Regions from separate parts of the Homo sapiens genome. Here regions 2, 3 and 4 are each linked to region 1. The links come from fine-mapping of genetic effects on gene expression. A gene starts in region 1. Each other region holds a variant in brackets. All regions are shown on one strand. Distances are from middle to middle. Region 1 holds the start of PDLIM5 (PDZ and LIM domain 5). Region 2 overlaps PDLIM5 (PDZ and LIM domain 5). Region 3 overlaps PDLIM5 (PDZ and LIM domain 5). Region 4 overlaps PDLIM5 (PDZ and LIM domain 5).

What was found. PIP is the estimated chance that this variant, and not a neighbour inherited with it, causes the effect.
Region 2: its variant is the best candidate, but not a certain one, in a credible set for the expression of PDLIM5 in monocytes (TOPMed, PIP 0.54).
Region 3: its variant is the best candidate, but not a certain one, in a credible set for the expression of PDLIM5 in monocytes (Fairfax 2014, PIP 0.52).
Region 4: its variant is the best candidate, but not a certain one, in a credible set for the expression of PDLIM5 in whole blood (TOPMed, PIP 0.85).

What each region holds. Positions count from the first base shown.
Region 1 is chr4:94,449,830-94,455,286 of GRCh38, reverse strand. PDLIM5 (PDZ and LIM domain 5) reads right to left here and starts at 3,345. Exons shown (of 13, transcript NM_006457.5): 1 at 3,292-3,345; 2 at 1-40. RefSeq lists silencers at 2,846-3,105, 3,276-3,695.
Region 2 is chr4:94,664,586-94,670,042 of GRCh38, reverse strand. PDLIM5 (PDZ and LIM domain 5) reads right to left here. Exons shown (of 13, transcript NM_006457.5): 13 at 1,820-5,457. Among named protein-coding and RNA genes, the nearest start is that of BMPR1B-DT, 90 kb to the left of the region's middle. RefSeq lists an enhancer at 1-1,749. The variant G/C (reference allele first, on the strand shown) is at 3,036.
Region 3 is chr4:94,603,637-94,609,093 of GRCh38, reverse strand. All of the region lies in intron 7 of PDLIM5 (PDZ and LIM domain 5), which reads right to left. Among named protein-coding and RNA genes, the nearest start is that of BMPR1B-DT, 150 kb to the left of the region's middle. The variant C/T (reference allele first, on the strand shown) is at 2,072.
Region 4 is chr4:94,646,396-94,651,852 of GRCh38, reverse strand. All of the region lies in intron 9 of PDLIM5 (PDZ and LIM domain 5), which reads right to left. Among named protein-coding and RNA genes, the nearest start is that of BMPR1B-DT, 110 kb to the left of the region's middle. The variant G/A (reference allele first, on the strand shown) is at 2,579.

The sequences.
Region 1 (5,457 bases):
TTCTAATGGCTCAAAGTCCAATGACAGAAAATGAAATATGCTGTGAAAGAAAATCAGATGATTAGCAAAAATGTTTACTTGAAACCCTAGAACATAAATTATGTTTAGTATTTTGTTTGAGGGGGGTGAGAGGATATAGAAGATAAGTCTTAATTAAGTTCTTCATTAATTTCAGTTTAAGAAAAGCAATCTGTGAGCTAATATAAATTTTCTACACTCATGGCAATTTCCATGGTCTAAAAATTCCATATCAGAATACATTTCTAGACACTTAGTATGTTTCACAACTTGCTTCAATCCAATTTTGTGGCTTCTTGCATGCAAAGTTTAACTCAAAGTACTTTACAATACTTCACTAATGTAGCAAGATTTTATTTCAGGTTGAATTCAGAATAATTTTCTCCTTCCCTCCACTTCATGTATTCTTTTGTCTGCAATTGACAAGAGTCTTTCAACTGCACTTACTTAAATTCTAAGTTACTCTAACATGTGAAAGAGACTGCAAATCAGTAGGCTCCCATTCATGCTTTCCAAATACTAAATTCTTTACAATGAGAAGCTGTTTTTCAATGCACAAAACTATTCTCTCCAATCATGAACTACAACTTGTATTTCCTCCTATGGGGACATGGTATTTTCCACACTTAAAGTGATATCTACTTTTCCTTCAGATAGTCAACGATAGGCAATACTCTAGTACAGTGATGTTAGTCACAACCTGCTTTTTGTTTTATACACACACCTCACCAGGCAGAGAGTAAGCATTTGCCACTCAGTGAATAAGATTATGACTAAATACAGCAAAAGTGCTGGGTTAATGCATTCAAATGGAATTGGCAGTTTAGAAAAGAACCAGTGCTTCGGTGCTTTCTTTTGTCTGTTCTGCTGTTAAGTGTGCGTGTGATGACTCTCCTAGTAGTACTTTCATATAATTTTTAAAAAGCAAAAAAAAAAAAAAAAACTTCGAGTTTCCTATTGGTTGTTATAACGGCAGGAGACAGAGGAATGAAGTTTTCTTTTGTTTTAATGGAATACTAAGAAACAATAATTCTCTCTCTTTAAAAAATATTAAAAACATAACAGATATGTAATTTTATATTAAAAACATACTTCCTTGGAAAATGTAAGCTATTCAACCAAATCACCACCTAATATTACCTGTCTTAAAATATGTTTTAACCCATTCAAAATTTCTAGCCCATCACCCCAAATTCATAGTTGCAGATATAGATATTTGAGCCATAGGTATATTTAAAGCAAACATTCCTTCTTCTCATAAAGGGAAAATGGGGCAAAACATTCAAATAAGCCTGGTTTTTAAAGAAAAATTATATCAGGGAAAATAAAAATTACAGAAAATTGTATCAGAAACCGAAACAGCTTTTCTACTGGCGTGGTAGTATACTGAACTACAAGGCAATAACACATTACTTCAGTAATGAAGTAATAGGCACAGAGCACTAAAAAAGATCCAAAGGCCAAGCCGGAAGTCAAACTGTATATATAGGTGAAAAACTACTAGTGGGAAGCTAATAACGAGCCACACATAATTCAATTGCTTTCCCGCTATAAAAGGAGGAGATTTTCAGAAAACTAATAGAAGGACTGTCCTGATATTGACACGATACAAATCAGAATCGTGTAAAGCCAACTGATATTTCACAGGCAGCCTGCCCTCCTTTATTAATCTTTAACTTGTGTCTGGGGAATAATATGAAAGTTGGGCTCAACTTCCTCTGGCCCCATTCTTCCCTACAAGAAAATGTATTTCATTTAGATTATCAACCCATGTACTTGCAACTTCCCTTTACTTGGGGATTCCCTTCCTAACTTCTCTCATTTGTTATTAAAATTCCTAGCACTGGCAAGGTCACAGCCACACTACAAAACCAGTGTCATTTCATTTCTAGTCACTGTCCGTTCATTTCTAGATGCTTCTTCTGCTAGCTTCATTTGGAATTCATCTGCCTTAAAACAGTCTCTGCCCCAAGCAATGGCAATATTTTTATTGGCCTTTCCAAGACTCCTCCATCTGGTTATTAGTGCCCAAGCCCTTCCTCAAATACCAAGCAGGCAGGAAATAGCAGCATACTCTTTCAAACACGTCGAAAAGGTTGGAATTTCTGTAGAGTTATGGATTTTCTTTTAGGGAAAGTCTAAACAATGTCTTTGCTCTAGTACTAGGGAAGGAAGCTTGGTATTTCCCACACTTGTATCTCAGCTTCATTAGTGGGTGAGAGGGGAGAAAGGAGAACTCAAGATGAACTACACAGAGTGACAAAAAAAAAGGCCTGAAATTAAAGAGAAATATCTTGAGATTCTCTTTCCCCGCAATGGAGAGAGAATGTAGGTAGAGCTGAAGAACTAAAGCCACAGGCACAGGATGAAAGCAGCCGACAGGACAGTTTTCCAGGAGGGATTCGCGCCTAGCCTTGTTGGCCAAATAAGGCTACCGAACGGGCCGTTTCCGTGGCAGGCGGGTTCAGACGTCCTCCCCGTCAGGAAGGCGGACTTGGGATAGGATCTGGCGATCACACCCTAAATCTGCCCTGCCCAGCGCCGCCACGAATTTTCCTTCCAAGCTCTGCCCTGTCCACACGCCCTTCCTTTTTCCACTTATTGTAAAACGCACCGAAGGCACAGTCTTACAAAAGCCCCAACAAGTACTCAAGTGTTAACAAATCTCGTGTTCATGACAAATGTGTTTCTTAAACGAGCTTTATTTCTGGACGCGCAGAAGTTTTCCCCAAACAGGTTACACAAAACTGTAAATATCTGGGGGAGAAATAAATGCTTCTCAGTAGCCTGGGAGCAAAGAAAAACTAACGCGCCTTTTCCTTTGAGTCCCGCTTCCTACCCTCCAAGAGACTGGCGCAGGACTGGGCACTCAGACACCACACCACGGTGGTGCCGGGCGACGCCGGCAGCCGGGTGGGTGGGAGCGGCAGTGCCCGTCCCTGCCGGCCCTCGCCACCTCCGGGCGCCCTCCCGCGTCCCCGTCTCCGCTACGCTGGTCCCGGTCGGCCCGGGCTGCGGGGACCCCAGGGCTCGCCCTCTGGCCTCATGCGGACTCCAGCGCTGCCCTTTTCCGGGCGCTCCTTTTCCCAAGCTGCTCTCCCACCTCCGCCGCTCCGCGCCCAGAAAGCACCTGAGGAGCCATCCCTGCCCGAGGAGCGCCCCCTCCTCGTCCCCAACCGGGCTTCCCTTCTCGCGTTCGGCGCACAGCGGCCGGTTCTTTCCCTTCTCCCACCGGAGATCCGAGAGGCGCATCGCCGGCCGGCCGCCACTCACCTCGGGTCCGGCGCGGCGCGGGGCTGCCTCCGCCTCAGACAAGGGCTGACAAGTGACTCGCGGTGAGGGCGCCGTCCCCACCGCCCGCGGGAACTTCCGCCTCCTGGCTCTCCCTCGCCCCACCCCCGACCCAGGACACGCCCCTCCGCTCCCGGCCACGCCTCTGGGCCAGTCCCAGCCGCGCCGCGCAGGGGCGGGGAAGGTGGCGGCGGCGCCGGGCGCTCGGGCTTGCTGGGGCTGGCTGAAGCAGCTGCGGAAAGACAACTGCGCTACCGAGTTTCGGTGGGAGTAGTCTTAGCGGATTTTGAGCGCTACCTGGCAAAGGTCTAACCCTCCGCTCGTCCGTTTTGTAGTGGGTGCATTTTTCTCTCCAGAAATTTAAATTGGCAAGCAGTTGCTCTGCCTAAAAATAGAAGGGTACTTTGGATAAATCTCTATCTATGCAAGTTCAGCGGTTACTGCCTGCGTTTTTTTTTTTGAAAGAGCTTTACATGCTCTGAAAAGTGCAGACCCAGAAGTTTACCTGTCAGGAAGGTGAAAACCAGTAACCCTAACAGAAGTTAACCCTGTCCATCACACCAGAAGACAGTGATACATAAAAGCGGCCAAAAGTGATTCAACCACTGTATCTTCAGTTTATTTTTCTAAATCCAAATCAATAGTCCACTTTCCAGCCTTCTATAGGGTTGCTTGATACGCCCGAGGAATTTATTCATAAGAAAACGTGAATAATGTTCACTGAACATACGGAAAGTAACTAGACTGTTACACTGTGAATTGGCTTATAAAACGTGAAAAGGACAATTCTTAACCAAGGAGCATATAAAGCAAGGATGAACTTCATGAGGTCCGTGAGCTCCCCGGCCCCCAGAAGTGCAAGCAAAATTCCAAAGGCGAAGATCCAAAGCTGCTCTTTCCCTAACGGTAGCCACTGGCCACATGTGGCTATCGAACAGTTGAAATGTGGCTACTGTAACTGAGACCATGAATTTTTTGTTTTACGTAATTTTAAATAATTTAACATTTAAAACTGAAGCAGGATAACATTTCTTTACTTTTTTTTTCTTTGAGACGGATTCTTGCTCTGTCTCCCAGGCTGGGATCAGTGGTGCAATCTCGGCTCACTGCAACCTCCACCTCCCGGGTTCAAGCGATTCCCCTGCCTCAGCCTCCTGAGTAGCTGGGATTACAGGCGTGCGCCACCACGCCCGGCTAATTTTTTGTATTTTTAGTAGAGATGGGGTTTCACCATGTTGGCCAGCCTGATCTCGAACTCCTGACCTCAGGTGACCAACCCGCCTCGGCCCCGCAAAGTGCTGGGATTACGGGCATGAGCCACCGCGCCAGGTCGTTAACATTTCTTTTAAGCACTACATTTAAGGACTAAAGTTGAAAATATAATGCCCAAATTGAAATGCGTTGGAAGTGTAAAATGCACACTGGATTTCGACGACTTGGTATGAAAAAATAATGTAAAATGCCTCAATAATTTTTATATTGATTATATGCTGAAATCATCATATTTTATGTTTTGTTAAATGATACATGATTATGGCCGGGCGCGACGGCTCACGCCTATAATCCCAGCACTTTGGGAGGCTGAAGCGGGTGGGTCACCTGAGGTCAGTAGTTCAAGATCAGCCTGGCCAACATGGCGAAACCCCGTCTCTACTAAAAATACAAAAATTAGCCGGGTGTGGTGGCGCATGCCTGTTATCCCAGCTACTTGGGAGGCTGAGGCAGGAGAATCACTTGAACCCGGGAGGTAGAGGTTGCAGTGAGCCGAGACCATGCCACTGCCCTCCAGCCTGGGCGACAGAGCAAGACTCCGCACCAAAAAAAAAAGAGTAATAATAATAATATTTGATTAAAATTAATTTCACTTTTTAAAAAAAATGTGGCCACTAGATAATTTAAAATTACTTACGTGAGCAGGGTGCAGTGGCTGACACCTATAATCCTAGCACTTGGGAGGCTGAGGTGAGAAGATGGCTTGAGGGCAGGAGTTTGAGGTTAACCTAGGCAACATAGCAAGACCCATCTCTAAAAAAATCCAAAAAATTAGCTGGGCGTCGTGTAGTGTGCCTGTAGTCCCAGGTCCCAGCTATTTGTATTGCTGAGCCCAGAAGTTCGAGGCTGCAGTGAACTATGATCTTGTCTTTGCAC
Region 2 (5,457 bases), 210 kb before region 1:
GAAATTGAAAAATTATACTCCCTGAGAATTCTAAATTGCTTTATTTATCTCCCCAAGGTCAGACAAGTGGTTTTCGGACATGGAAATATCCCATTCTACACTAAACAACAGCTCCAAGCTTTATTGTGTGTTATTACATGCAGTCACAGACAGGACAAAATAAAAAAATTGCCTTCTTGGCAAACTTCTATTTAAAAGGGCTCCCCTAGTGCTCTACCTTTAGCGAAAATCACAAAATGCATCTCACTTTTCCCCAACCCTGTGTTCAAGGTATGAAGGCTACACCTTTCTTATTAATCATTGATGCAATCTTGCCACCTACCCAGACAGATTCTAAATCACAGAATCAAAAGTTCTGTAATATAATACTATAGACAAATGGTATACAGTCCTGTAAATTCTCCTCAGAAAATGAATAGTTTGGCAAATCAGGCACTTGCCGCATTAAAAATAATATGCATATCTCCATATACGATAAATACACAGGCAACATTTGGGCCCGGTACTTACTGAGTTAAATCCTCTCATTCATACGTACAACACAAAACCATATCAGTCTGAGATTTCTGTTAGGTAGCCATGTGTCCTAGCACCTTTCCTCTGTTAAATTTTAAATACTGCAAAAGAACCATTTTCCCTGGGAGGCTCCCACACTTGGGATGAAACTTTCTCTGCGGAATTTTGGCACCCTATTAATTAGTGGTTATGAGTGGGAGCTGCTCTCTCTCAGCAACTCCTATTCTGCCATCAGTCAAGTGTGATTCTGCAATAAATTTCCACGAAGCAAACTATTTCTGGTAATTCTCCCTAATTAACACCAGGCCTGCTAATAATACATCAGTACCTATGTGTTTCTGATATAACCAAGATCTTGTCTGAGCATACCCAAAAAGGGAAACCGCCAATCCAAATTAAGCTTTTGCTGGCAAAAGGATTTTATATGTAGTTCTGTAAGAAAACCTTTGATAATCTTATATTGGGGACATTTCGACTAGAAAACACTGAACGACAGGGAGGCTTGCTCTGGTTTGAGCACTGAATGGGGATTTATTGTGAACACACGGTTGAGACTTAAGCCTATAAATCTTGTACTGGATTACTGTTTCTTAACGAAGGAATGACAGATCTCTTATTTTGTCGGTGCATTTTAATGTGCAATGACGTGATTGATAGAAACCAAACAGCAGCTATTAAAATGTCAGATGCAGACTTGATGCTCTTAAAAGTTTGGCTTCTGGAGTTTAATATACTGTGAGCAAATAGACTTGAATTTCTCTTTTATTCCCAACATAGAGCGTGCAACAGAAACATCTGTCTTAACTTTATACAGTTGGAAAAATATCTTAAACTAATAAACAAATGAGGCAGAGGTGAGCCTACCTAGTTGTGGAATAGTCAGTTAATGAGATTGAGATGAGTTAAGCATCCCAATATCTAATGCAAAATGTGGAAATATGGATGATGATTTATGTTCTTTGATTATGTTCTAATATGATGTTTGATATGACAGGTTGTTCCAATAAATCATTTCAGCAATAAATATTTTCAAAAGACAATAGACCTTATTTATCTATTAATTCATAAACATTGGGTACATTCTACATGCACGGCATAAGAACAGAGAGAAATACAATAAATGTGACAGTATTTTCAAATATTTTGTTTCTGAGACATTTTGATAAGCAAATATCATACTAGAAGGGTTCTTCTGAGAATTATTACATCCTATCCTAACCTGTGAATATGGAACTTGATTATTTTCCCATGATGACTTGATGGAAACCACTCGCCAACCAACAACAACAAAAAGGAGAGCTCATTTACAACAATGCAGTCATTTATTTATTGAGTATGTGCACATTATGGTATTATTACTATACTGATTATATTTATCATGTGACTTCTAATTAGAAAATGTATCCAAAAGCAAAACAGCAGATATACAAAATTAAAGAGACAGAAGATAGACATTAACAGATAAGGCAACTTATACATTGAGAATCCAAATCCAATACATTTAAACATTTGGGAAATGAGGGGGACAAATGGAAGCCAGATCAAATTTGTGTAAAACTATTCAGTATGTTTCCCTTGCTTCATGTCTGAGAAGGCTCTCCCTTCAATGGGGATGACAAACTCCAAATGCCACACAAATGTTAACAGAATACTAGATTCACACTGGAACGGGGGTAAAGAAGAAATTATTTTCTATAAAAGGGCTCCTAATGTAGTACTGCTTGAAAATGGTACATTTTTGTTGTAGATTATTTTAAACATAATGCTATAGTAATATTTTGAAGATTTGAGCTGTTATTTCCATTTGTTTTTACACTGTGACTAAATGATTAGGTTTTAGTTTTAGACTCTAAACGGAACCTGAATTAATAGGAAATAAACACGGTACTATAGTTGTCCTATGGTGCCCCTATGGGTGATGGGTTCCAAGAACCCCCTAGGATACTAAAGTCCATGATGTTCAAGTCCCTTATAGAAAATGGTGTAGTATTTGCATATAACCTATGCACATCCTACCATACACTTTAAATCATCTCTAGATTACCTATAATAGCTAATACAATGTAAATGCTTTGTAAATAGTTGTTATACTATATTGTTTAATGACAAAAAAAAGTTTGTACATGTTCAGCAAAGGCGCAACCATCCATTTTTTTCCCCAAATATTTTTGACCCACAGTGGGCTGAATCACAGATGCGAAGCCTATGGACATGGAGGGCCAACTGGACAAGCATAAGCAGGGGATACTTTTTAGGTTGCTACTTCAGCAGGCAACATTCAGACCATGGAAGTCTAGAGAAAGATTATAAATCTGAACTTACCGCTAAAAATTTTAAAATGGGAAATAAATCCAAGGAGTTTTTAGTCATGCATTATGATTTTAATCTATGTTATGCCAAGTACAGCATTCCAAAATATACATCTAGAGACTAAAAGTAAATGCTCTATAGTGAAGAAGTAATAATTAAAAAATGCTACTAATATAGAAAATTTATAATCAGAAAAATAAATATTCAGG[G/C]AGCTCACCAGAAGAATAAAGTGCTCTGCCAGTTATTAAAGGATTACTGCTGGTGAATTAAATATGGCATTCCCCAAGGGAAACAGAGAGATTCTTCTGGATTATGTTCAATATTTATTTCACAGGATTAACTGTTTTAGGAACAGATATAAAGCTTCGCCACGGAAGAGATGGACAAAGCACAAAGACAACATGATACCTTAGGAAGCAACACTACCCTTTCAGGCATAAAATTTGGAGAAATGCAACATTATGCTTCATGAATAATATGTAGAAAGAAGGTCTGATGAAAATGACATCCTTAATGTAAGATAACTTTATAAGAAATCTGGGTCAAATAAAATTCTTTGAAGAAAACATCCAAATGTCATTGACTTATCAAATACTATCTTGGCATATAACCTATGAAGGCAAAACTAAACAAACAAACAAAAAGCTCACACCAAACAAAACCATCAACTTATTTTGTATTCTATAACATACAAGACTGTAAAGATGTGACAGTGTACATTATATGACAATGCACATTAGCCAGCAAGTCTTTTATAGGTGGTTTCAGCAGCAACGATAAATAATGCAGAATTCAGCTCCAGCACTTTATTTCAAAAGAAATTTCCTGCCTCCCTCCAAGATGCAGGGTGAGGAGGTAGCTTGGGGTTGCTATTGGAGAAGTATTCAGTTTGCTACTTTGTGTCACCCCTTGCCATTCTTTTATCCCCAGTTAATTATTATCTGCATATAATATAAATCTGCTAGACCATAAATTAACAGCTTTCAGGACAGATGCCTTGAAAGTTCTTAGGGAGGTTAAACAAATATTGTAGCCTAAAACCTCCTCTATAACAAACATGCACACAATGGAAGTGATGTCGTAAGTGAGTGATGGGGCAGGAAGGACCTAGGGCTCTGTCTCGACTATAAAATCACCTTGCCCCAAACAAATTTAAATTATAACTTAGGAGGTTCATGGACTTTCATCCATTCTGGAAACAAAGAGAAAAACCAAATCAAATACCAGAATCTGTTTTCTCACTGGGCAAATAGCAACAGGATCCACAGTTTTACCACAATTGTTTCCCTGTCTCCATGTGGTATCTACATAATTCTTTTCCCAAAGGAGGAAATCAAATAACAGGCCAATCTGAGTAATTAAACTCCCCTCCCAACACTACCCAACCTCTGTGAATAAAAGCTTTCCAAACTTTGTGATCACATTTGAAATTGGTTCACTTATTATTGAGAGAAAACCACAAAAAGTCTCAATTTCATCACATCCTCAAACCAATCTTTTAATTTTTAAATGCAGAAGAAGAAACAAAACGAAACAAAAAGATCATTCTGCAAAGAGACCTCTCAACTCTTCATCAGCCAGTGGCATAACTCAGAAACTGATTTAACTAATTTATTATTTGAGAAAAGGGGATTGAAAAACAATTGGGGGGTATAATCTTCTGATTCACAATTCCCAGCCACATTCTTTTCTATTTATTCTCTCTCTCTCTTTTTTTTTTTTTTTTTTTTTTTTTAAGAGCCGGAGTCTTGCTCTGTCACCAGGCTGGAGTGCAGTGGTGTGATCTCAGCTCACTGCAACTTCCGTCTCCTGGGTTCAAGAATTTTCCTGCCTCAGCCTCCCAAGTACATGGGACTACAGGCACGCCCCACCATGCCCAGCTCATTTTTGTATTTTTAGTAGAGACAGGGTTTCACCATGTTGGCCAGGATGATCTTGATCTCTTGACCTCATGATCCGCCCGTCTTGGCCTCCCAAAGTGCTGGGATCACAGGCGTGAGCCACCACACCTGGCCCTCTATTTATTCTCTTTAAAGAGAGAGAAAACTATGAGAGGCCAAAATTATTTAATTAAATCTTTACCTTAGCACAAGGGAAAAAAATGGAATTTGCCTAATATAGGTGATGAAGCATACACAATGAATAGAAACAATCACATTTTAGTAAAAGGCAAAAATTTGAGACTTATAAGCTATATGGTAGCTTATTTTTGGGTGGGGAAGAAATGAGAAAAGAATATAACATCTCTTACTGGCATGACACATTTTGATAAAAAATCTTATTGTCCTTTCCTACTAGAATGATCCACTGTAAGGCAAAAATAATATACAAGCAAAGTTTTTTTTTGGAGACAGAGTCTCACTCTGTCACCCAGGCTGGAGTGCAGTGGTACGATCTTGGCTCACTGCAACCTCTCCCTCCCGGGTTCAAGTGATTCTCGTGCCTCAGCCTCTTGAGTAGCTGGGATTACAGGCGCGTGCCACTGCGTCCGGCTAATTTTTGTATTTTTAGTAGAGATGGGGTTTCACCATGTTGGCCAGGCTGATCTCAAACTCCTGACCTCATGTGGTCCACCCACCTTGGCCTCCCAAAGTGCTGGGATTACAGGCGTGAGCCACCGCGCTCAGCCTA
Region 3 (5,457 bases), 150 kb before region 1:
TAAGTCATTCTTCCAATTTCCACAGGCTATAACTTTACAAAAACGATTAGAAAAAAAATTAAGGAAATAGTTGCAAGCTATGTTTTCAAAATGATACAGAATTAAGTAATTTTTCTTTTGGTCTATCTAAGTCTATCCATTAAATTAAACTGTATGGCTAAGTTTTAACAACTGTTAATGAATGGTTAGAAAAGAAAACGTCAGGGTCTGGAGAGAGAAAAGAAAGATGTTATCAATGGCAGAGCAGGGTAGGTAACATGAATGTCAAAGGGAATAATAAAGTTATCATGTGATTCCACTTCTGAGTTTCTGCATTACTCTGCATCTCTGAGACAATGGTTACTATTTGGAGACATAATGGTGAATAATAAGAACTAGAAACTTAGTATATTGAAAAATCACTTAAAAATAAATCAGCTAATTTTTTCTTCTCCAGGAAGAAAAGGAAACGGTAATGAATTTCTTTCATCATATTGCATCACAAATAATAGAAAAGGATTTAGTATCAGCAGAATCTAGTTATATCTCATAAGCAGTTACTTATCTGAGTATCTTTAGAATATGTCTGGGCACCTGGTAACATATTGTGTATGACCTTTACCTGTCTTTGAGGCAAATGCTCTAATTCAGAAAAGGAGACTTATGACAAAGCCAGCAAGTTAACTTTCCAAATCACAAAGTGAATAAATGAAAGAGATTTCTTGATTCTATATTAGAAGTTATAAACTAAACAAAAATAAAAATATAAAAGCAGTGAGAAGCGCTGTTTTGAGGCTGAGTGCCAAGCTTTCTTGTCTATAGGTTAATGATGTCCGTTCTGTAATCAACAATCATTTTTTCTTTTTCAAACAGTTTAGTATATTTAAATTCACTACCAGCTTTGAAATTTAGAAACACCAAGAAGGAAGAGTCTACCTAGAATAAGTAGTTGCTACTTTAGAAAGTGTGGCCACTTGGCTACCAATAGTTAACACCTGAGGAGTTGCAGGAGGGTGAGGTCCACTCTTAGGTAGGTCTTCCAGAGCACTGTCAAACCTAAGTTTTCAGAAGTAAAATATATAAGGCAAAGGAAATATTAATGAAAAGTACAAAAGACATTTATCATCTATACCATCTTTTAAATGTCTACTAGTTCAATTTTGGGAACACTATTGGTTTTCTTTTACTTCACATCTACAAATGGTTAAAACAAAACCCAACACTTCTGCCACCACAAAATATGGGCTGTTTTCCCCCAAAATTCTTTAATATGGCTACTTCTATGTAATAAAATATTACGCTTACAGGGGAAAAGGAGGTGGAAATTCCCATTCACTGACTACGTGTTTTGAATGCTTTAAAAAAACTTAGGCTCCAAGAAGTTAATTAAGTTGCCCAATACCATACATCTAGTAAGGGCCAGGTGGAATTTGGACCAGGTCTGCCTGTATTATTTCCACTATATAATGTTTTCCAGAACATTGTGAGACAGCTACCTAAAAGTGTCCTACAAGAAAGCAACCAAAAGTTTCACGTCAGAATGTTCTGTCTGTAGATCTGAAGTTATATGGATGTTGTGTATCTTGATGTAAACAAACTATTTTATCTGCTCATACAACAGATGGTGGCATGCAATCGTAGGGTTTTGAGTATTCTTTACTTTAATTTTCTGATATCTGTATTATTTTTTATATAGAATGCCAGAAGTAAGTTCTAGAAGAACTATTGCCAGGTAAAGAAAAAATGAAGAACTCAATGTTAAGTTCAAAAAAAAGAAAGCACCAAGTATAAAACTTTGGGAAGAAAAATAAAACAGGAAAAATACAAAATTAGCCATTAAAAAAAAAAAGTCTGTGGATAAAAAAATAGAATGGTCAGTCATGTTACACTGATTTTCAAATGGATTAAAAAATAGGAAAGGAGAGGTTATATTCCTGTTTTTTATTTCACATTAGTCATACCTTTACCAGAGTGTTGAAAAAACGTAGACAGTTGAAGAAAAATGTCATGATAGAACTAAAACATTAAGAGGTAGAGCAGAAAGGTTAAGAGACTAAGAAATATAAGAACCATAACATGGGTCAGCAAACCA[C/T]GGCATGCTGGCCAAATTCAGGCCCTGCCTGTCTTTGTATGGCCTAAGAATAGTTTTCATATTTTTAAATGGTTAATGGTTAAGAAAATCGAAATAACAATACAATGACACACAAAAATTATATAAAATTCAAATTTCAGCATCCATAAATAAGGTTTTATTGGAACTTTATTGGAACATAGCCAGGTTCATTCTTCATATGTCTATGGCTACTTTCATATGATATAAGAACTGACTAACTGTGACAGACCATATGGCCTGAAAAATCTAGCACATTTCCTATCTGGACCTTTACAGAAAAAAATTTGCTGACCCCTGTCCTAGAAAATAACTTCTCTACACAGCTACCAGAGTGAACTCTGAAAAATACAAATGCCATCATGTCTGTTGCTTAGACCTTCCAGCCCTGCTCTAGGTGATCTTGGGCTACCTGTTCTTCAGCATTATGTCATGAAGCTTGTCCACTCTCTTTGGCTTGCTCCAGTCCACTGGGCCTTCCATCTCTTTTTGAAATAGGCCCTGCTTCTATCCCCCTCCTGGCCTCTGCACAGTCTCCTACTCCTCACTGTCCTCAGCCCTCGTTCTACCACACCCTCACTGGGATAACTCCAAGGCATCCTTCTGGCCTCAGTTTAAATGTCACCTCCTCCCAGAAGCCTCCCTGATTCCCCAAGCCACCTTAGCTGCCCCTGTCATGTGCTGTCATAGCAGTCTGTACTTTTCACTCATATAATTTGTTATTATTATTATACAATTTGTGTCGTTATTTGTTTAAATCCAGACAGTCTCAGAAGACTAGAAGCTCCCTGATACCAATAGTTACTGATATACATGAAGTGTAACAAAGTGCTTACCATAAAGTTAACAAATATTTGTGAAATAAAAGCTTGAAATTTATTTTTTCCAAATAACGAATTCACAATATTTGTAAATTGAAAAGTATTTGTACCTTCTAGAGACTGTGTCACAATTCTGACTAAACAGATTTTTGCCTAAGTGGACACATGATAACTTGAAAGAAATGAATAGTGCTCCCAAAATACCTTTAAATAAATATTTTAATATTAAAAATTTATAAATATTTCAGGAAAAAAGAAAATATGGTTATAAATTATTATCAATATCTACATATTACCACAGGACAGATTAAAAAAAAAAAGAAAAGGGAGTGAGTTGGAGAAGTTGAGTCTTCCAACATCTCCGTGAAATATGCTGATTGGAAAAAAGCTGAGTGCCATTTGAGAATAAATTTCATATAAATCATGAAATACCTTTGAAGATGATCTCCAAGTCATCTTCCAAGCAAACGCACTTGGGAAGTTTCCCATGTGTTACACGTATTGATTATCTCTTCATTGCTTAGCCAAACTCTAAAAACCTGACTTAAGACAAAATCTTAAACTACCTCATTTACTATGGAACAAACATCAGTATCTGTTCTCATTCTGACATTCCCCAGTGTTTACTCCTTTTAGGTTGGAGGAAGCTCTGATTAATAGCATATCTGCAGCAGCCAAATTTTCTGCCTTGTCTTGCTTAAATGAGTTTTCATTTCTCACCAGAGAGGGTTATGAAGACTTCCTCTTTCCCAGATAAAGTCTTTCCCTTTTGGCTTGCTTTTCTCAGGATACATGAACAAAGAGCTATTCATGCATTGTGTCTATTTCTGCACCATCTCTGCACTTGTTCATTACGGACCCTTGTGAACAATCTGTCCAGCAAATCAGGTGTGAGTTGTCCATCTACTAATTTACCATCCTTACCATCCTGTAGGACCAGTAAGAAGAATTCTTTTTCTATCCCCTAGTCCGGACAACTGCCCAAGAGCAACATTCTAATGCTGTGTACTCCATCTCCTCCCTTAATCTCAGTGGCCTCGATTAATCCATCTCTCCTTCTCTACTGGATGCTTTGTGTCCTCTTTTAAAATGCAGTAGTTTCTCTTAAAAACAACAGACTATCTTTACTTTCTATTTTCCTGTTCCACTTACCAGCCAGACTCTGAAATAACATTATACTCACTTGACTGTCAGTCTTCAGCCATCTCAACTAGACCCCAACCCCCAACACTCTATGAAACTGCATCTTGCTAAGGTCACTGATGACCTTCTTGTGGCTAAATTCAATGGACAATTTGCATTCCTCATTTTAAAAACTGTGGTAAAAAATACATAACATGAAACTTACTATCTTAACGATTTTCAAGTGCACAGTCAGTAGTGTGAAGTACGTTCACATTATTGTGGAAGAGATCTCCAGAAGTTTTTCATCTTGCATATTCGAAACTCTATACCCATTGAACAACTACCCCTTCCCCCTCCCCCTAGCCTGTGGTAACCAGCACCATTCTACTGTTTCTATGAAGATGACTACTTTAATTCTTTTTTTGGAGACGGAGCCTCACTCTGTCACCCAGGCTGGAGTACAGTGGCACAATCCCGGCTCACTGCAACCTCCACCTCCCTGGTTCAAACGATTCTCCTGCCTCAGCCTCCTGAATAGCTGGGACTACAGGTACGTGCCACCACGCCTGGCTAATTTTTGTGTTTTTAGTAGAGACGGGGTTTCTCCATGTTGGTCAGGCTGGTCTCGAACTCCCGACCTCCAGTGATCCGCCTGCCTTGGCCTCCCAAAGTGCTGGGATTACAGGCGTGAGCCACCACACCCAGCCCGAAGATGACTACATTAGATACCTCCTAAGCCTGACCCGAAGATGACTACATTAGATACCTCCTATCAGTGGAATCATACAATATTTGTCTTTTTGTGCACATTCCTCATTTTACTTAGTGTCTGGCTCAATTGACTACTGCTTCTCTTTTCCTGTCATTTGTGCCTCAACCCTATTTACCTGCCTGTTTTTAGTAGTATTTCACTGGCTATTCTGTTGCCCGAGAGTTCTCTGTCCTAGGCTTTATTTCTCTGTACTCTGCTATCATTAGTACAGTGACATTACTCTGTCCTGTAGCTTTAACACCACCTAATGTCCAGATTTATATCTAGCCCAGCTGTCTCCTATGAGCAGTAGCCCATATTTTGAATTGCCCTTTAGTTATTAATACCTCTAATATCTCTCTGTCTCAAATCATCTTTCACCATGTCCAAATGACTCTACTTCCAAATTTATATTTTTAATCTATCAGTGGTGTGATGGGTCCCCTACCAGGTTACTTAAGGGTGTTATATTCAATGCTTGAAACTTGAGGGCCAGGCAGTTAGCTAAGGCCATGGTGCCTAGCCGAGAAGCAGGGGTCCCTGAGAACGCAAACATCCTGAGGCATGGCTGGGAATATACCAAGGAAAAAAGTCCCAGCACACTCACACACGCGCGCGTGCGCACACACATACACGGCAAAGAGCCAGAAAATTAGCTTAAAAGCAGCCTA
Region 4 (5,457 bases), 200 kb before region 1:
TGAAATTCACCCTTGCTCTTCCTGCAAGTTGTTGCTGGAGTGTTGTTAGATCTCATCCAGCGTCACTTTCACATGGTCTCATTCAGAAAAATTCCTCCCTGATTTCTGCAGCAAGAACTATTATGCTTTTCCTCAGCAGTAGTCTTATTTTTATCTTATTGTAAATTGCAAAACTACCTTTCATTTTTGGTAGACTACTAGAAGGCCTAAAGCCAGATTTACAGTCTAACCAGAGGCAAGTGGGCAGGTCATTATTTTAGTATCGTCCAGTCTCGACGTTAGCTTCATTTTTAACGAGCCTATCGATGAATTTCATTCTTTTTCCCCTTTTGTAATTTATAAGATTATCTTATATTTCACATACCTGTAAAAGTCTTTTTACAAACTTGCTGGAATATAGTTCACTATAAATACATAAATTAAAACTACAGTCCATTAAAAGGATGACTTTAAAATATTTCATTAGTTCCTTTCAAATAGCAAAAGGAATTTTAGACAGTAAAGAAATTCCCACTGCACCTTTAAAAAACAAGCTGAAAATGACCCTTGCTCCTCTCAGATCTCCTTTCTTAAACAAGCATGCTCAGGGCAACTACTGGCCTAACTTGATACTTCTTGGCTGTCCTGAAAGAGCATCTTTCTCCATCAATGCCCTTGAAATTATGCACAGATTAAACAATAAAATTAATCTTTCACATATAGCAAAGTGTTTTCTTCTCTGTGTCAGCAAAGACTAATTTAACAAATTCATTAACACAGGATTAACACTAAAGAAGTTCTTCTTGTTCCAGGTAGGATTGGGTTTCCATTTGTGAACAGGAATGACAGGCCTAGATAACTGCAGAGTGGAATTAAGTATTCAGCTATCTCTTCTAGTATTCGATGTCCTGTGAGCCCTTACTAAGTACATGTTGACTGACAAATGGAGGGAGAGGAGGGATTTAAAGCATTTGGTTGGCTGTGAGAGAAGAGCTACGGCATGAAACTTTTCACCCTGTTTATCTTCTGTGAGACCTATCCAAAAAGGCGGGGCATGTGGGGGGAAGAAAGGAAAGGTAGGGAAGGATGCCAAGGAAGAGTTCAGAGAAAAAGGAAAGCTTACAAATACAAAGGTGAAAGGAACTCAGATTTCAACAGGCACAACCTAACTGGGATTTAGCCTCAAAATCTGATGCTTATTTTTTGCTGCTCTTTGTTATTTAATTCTCACAATAATCCCAATGACAGAAATTAACTTTTTCATATACGTGTAGATGAAGAAAACGTCAGAGAAATCAGCCAACTTTCCTAAGATCATATGGATGACGAACTAACTGTAATACTGGAATTTTTCAAAGCCCAACCACAACAGATTTTATTCGACTGAAAATTACTGTATCAATAGAAGTAAAAAACAAGTTTCCCAAAGCTATAAAAAAACTGACGTGCTCAAGAATAAAAACAGAATCTGATATTCTACTTAGTTAAATATACTAATACAAATGTACAAACCACTTTTATGTTTTTGTATTTGCCAACATTGAGGAAGGGCCTGGCGTGAGCAAAGGGCAAAAGAACAACACAGCCACAGGAATAGAGTGAAATAGGAACAAGATAATCAGGAGAAACTGCACATAAATACATTCACAAACGATTACACACAAAGACACAAGCAGGAAGAGAGTAAAAGAGAAACACAGTGACTATCGTCTTAGAATACTCAAAACTGCAGACATTAACAATCCTTCCTAAAATTTGGAAACACTGTATTTGTCACTCTTAATTCTTCATTTCCAGTGGATTATATGCAAACTTTCCAATTTGGAACATTAAAAAGTAATTCTTTCGCTGAATGTCAACTTTAACTTTCAGTCCTTTAACATACTACATTTAAAGGGTTGTGAGGCCACCTATAGTTTTATATCTGAAAGGCATAAATGACTTGCTTCTCCAAAATAAATGCACAGGTAAAATGAGTTTAAACATAATAGTAAATAAAGAGAACAAGTTCTAAAGAAGGTAACCTTAATTGACAATTTTTTAAAAGTCTACTGGAGACAACTACAGTCAATTCTTTTTGAGATTATTATAAAATCTGCAAAGCAGGATAAATGTAATTCAATAATAAGACAAGTGAGATATAATTTCAATTTGGCAACACTAATATACATTCTACAAATATTTAAAAGTTCATCTATCAATTGAGCAAGACTTTACTAAATGCAATATGTGCTAGGCACTGTTCTAGAAACAGGAAATCTGGCAGGGAACAAAGCCAAAAAAAGCCCTGATTGCATGGAACTTATATGCTAACATAGGGCAGGGAGATGACAGTAAGATAAATAAAATATATGGCATGTTAGATATTAAAGGCTGACAAGAAAAATTAAGCAGGGAGGGCAGAGAGGAAGATGGTATAGGTAGGAAGTAGGGATGAAATGGGAGAATTTAAATAGGTGACCAGGAACACTCTGATATTTGAGTAAAGACCCTCTCCATGAGTGTGGGTAGAACCTGTGGCCATGACAGGGTATCACTCCTGTGATTAGATAACTGTAAATAGCAAAAAGGATTGTGCAGATACAATTACATCCCCTAG[G/A]CCAGGCATGGTGGCTCACGCCTGTAATCCCAGCACTTTGGGAGGCTGAGACGGGCGGATCACTTGAGGCCAGGAGTTCGAGACCAGCCTGGCCAACATGATAAAACCTCGTCTTTACTAAAAATACAAAAATTAGCTGGGCATGGTGGCACGTGCCCGTGGTCTTAGCTATTCGGGAGGCTGAGGCAGGGGAATCGCTTGAACCCAGGAGGCGGAGGTTGCAGTGAACCAAGATTGCGCCACTGCACTCCAGCGTCAGCAACAGAGTGAGACTCTGTCTCAAAAAAAAACCAAAACCAAAATCAAAAAAAAACAATTACATCCCCTAATCAGTGGATACTGTTAATCAAAAGACAGATCATCCTGGATGGGCCTGACCTAATCAGGTAAACCCTTAAAAGAAGTTAAAAAGCAACAGGAGAGGCTCTACTGCTGGCCCTGAGGAAGAAAGCAATCATGTTGTGAACTGTCTAAGGTGGGGACGGCCTATAAGGACGTCAGTCCCAGAGCTGCAAGGAACTGAATTTGCCCAACAACCTGCGTGGGCTTGGAAGAAGATCTGGATCTCTACATGATAACTTCAGCTCAGCTGACACCATGATTTCAGCCTGGTGCGATTCTGAGCAGGGTACTCAGCTAACCCATAGACTCATGACACAGAAACTGTGGGACACTGGCCGGGTGCGGTGGCTCACGCCTATAATCCCAGCATTTTGGGAGGCCGAGACGGGCGGATCACTTGAGGCCAGGAGTTCGAGGCCAGACTGTCTCTACTAAAAATACAAAAATTAGCCGAGCATGGTGGTGCAGGCCTGTGGCCTCAGCTATTCAGGAGGCCAAGGCAGGAGAATCCCTTGAACCTGGGAGGTGGAGGCTGCAGTGAGCTGAGATCCTGCCACTGCATTCCAGCCTGGGCAACAGAGTGAGACTCAGTCTCAAAACAAAAAACAAAAACCTGTGAGACACCTTAGTGTCATTTTTAGTAATTTGAGTCTTCTTTTTTTTTTTCTTGGTAGTTTAGCCAATGTTTGTCAATTTTGTTGATCTTTCCAAGGAACCAACTTGTGGTTTCATTGATTTTTTTTAAATTCTCGATTTCATTCATTTCTGCTGTAATCTTTGTTCTTGCCTTCCTTCTAAGTTTTGGACTTAGTTTGATCTTTTTCTAGAGTCTTAAGGTAGAAGGCAATGTTACTGATTTGAGATGATTCTTCCTTCTGAATGCAGACATTTGCCAGCTATCAATTTCCATCTAAGCACTGCTTTAGCTGCATTCAATAAGTTTTGGTATATTACATTTTCATTTTCATTCAGCTCAAAGTATTTTCTAGTTTCCCTTGTGATTTCTTTTCTGACCCACTGGTTGTTTAAGGAATGTGTTTTTTAATTTCTACATATTTGTGAATTTCCCAAATTTTCTTCTGTTATTGATTTCTAATTTCATTCCATTCTGGTCAGAGAGCATACTTTGTATGATCTCAGTCCTTTTAAATTTATTGAAACTCGTTTTATGACTTAACATATGGTCTATCCCGGAGAATGTTCCACATACACTTCAGAAGAATATATATTCTGCTGGATTCTGCTGTTGCTGAGTGGAATGTTCTATAGATATCTGGTGAAGTATACTTGGTATTTAGTGTTGTTCAAGTTTTCTAGTTCTTTTTGCTATTCTGACCAGTAATCAATTATATCTATTAATTAATATGGAGTGTTGAAGTTTCCAACTATTATTATTGAATTGTATATATTACTCCCTTCCATTCTGACAGTTTTTATTTCACTTATTTTGATGCTGTTAGGTAAATATGTGTTTATAACTCACATTTTCTTAATGGATTGAGCTTTTTATCATTATAAAATGTACTACTCTGTCTCTAGTAATTTTTTTTGTCTTAACATCGATTTTATCTGATATTAGTACAGTCATTCTCACTCTCTTTTGGTTACTATTTGCATAATATATTTTTTTCTATACTTTTACTTGTAACATATTTGTATCTTTTATTTTAAACTGTGTCTCTTGTAGACAACTTATAGTTAGATCATAATTTTATCTACCCTTCCACTCTCTCTTTTAGCTGGAGTGTGTGATATATTTATGTTTAATGTAACCTACTGATAAAGTAGGATTTATTAGTGGCATTTTGCTATCTATTTTCTCTATGTTGTATGCCTTTTTTGTTCCCTTTCCTACATAAAAAAGTGAAAGAGGAATCAAAGTCATCAGCTAATAGTGAGGATGGGAAAGGAGATTTTAGAAGTTTGAGGAGAAAGAAGATGTGAAATGGGTTTTTTGGGGAAAGTGGGAAAGTAAACATATTAGAGAAACAGCAGTCTTTCATTACTATTAAGAATATACCCAGGGAAAAGAAGGAACATACCTGAGATTAGTAGTGATGAATTTAAAAGGAGACTGGTTAGTGTGATTGTGGGATTCCTTCCAGTCACACCCATCATTCGGGTGTGAGCACGGGGTAGACTAGAAATATATACCATGGTGCCAGTATGGTAACTTGCATAGAAGTTTTCAATGGACATTTGTTGTACAAAATATTCATTTGATTATGAATAGACTTCTGAACCTTACTGCTTTCCATTCTTTTCAAATAAAATAAATTGGTTTGTTAAAGTTGGATAATCCTTACCTCTCCTTTTTGCACTGATGTAATCCTAGATGCATCTCTGTTCGACTTACCATATTAATTTGGTTGTTGATTTGCTTGTCTGTATTTTTTATTAGACTATAAACTGAATTAGTTTGCCAGGACTGCCTTAGCAAAGTACCACAGACTGGGTGGCTTCAACAACAAGAATTTATTTTCTCACAGTTCTGGAAGCTAAAGTTCAAGACCAAGATGTCAAGAGGGCTTCTCCCC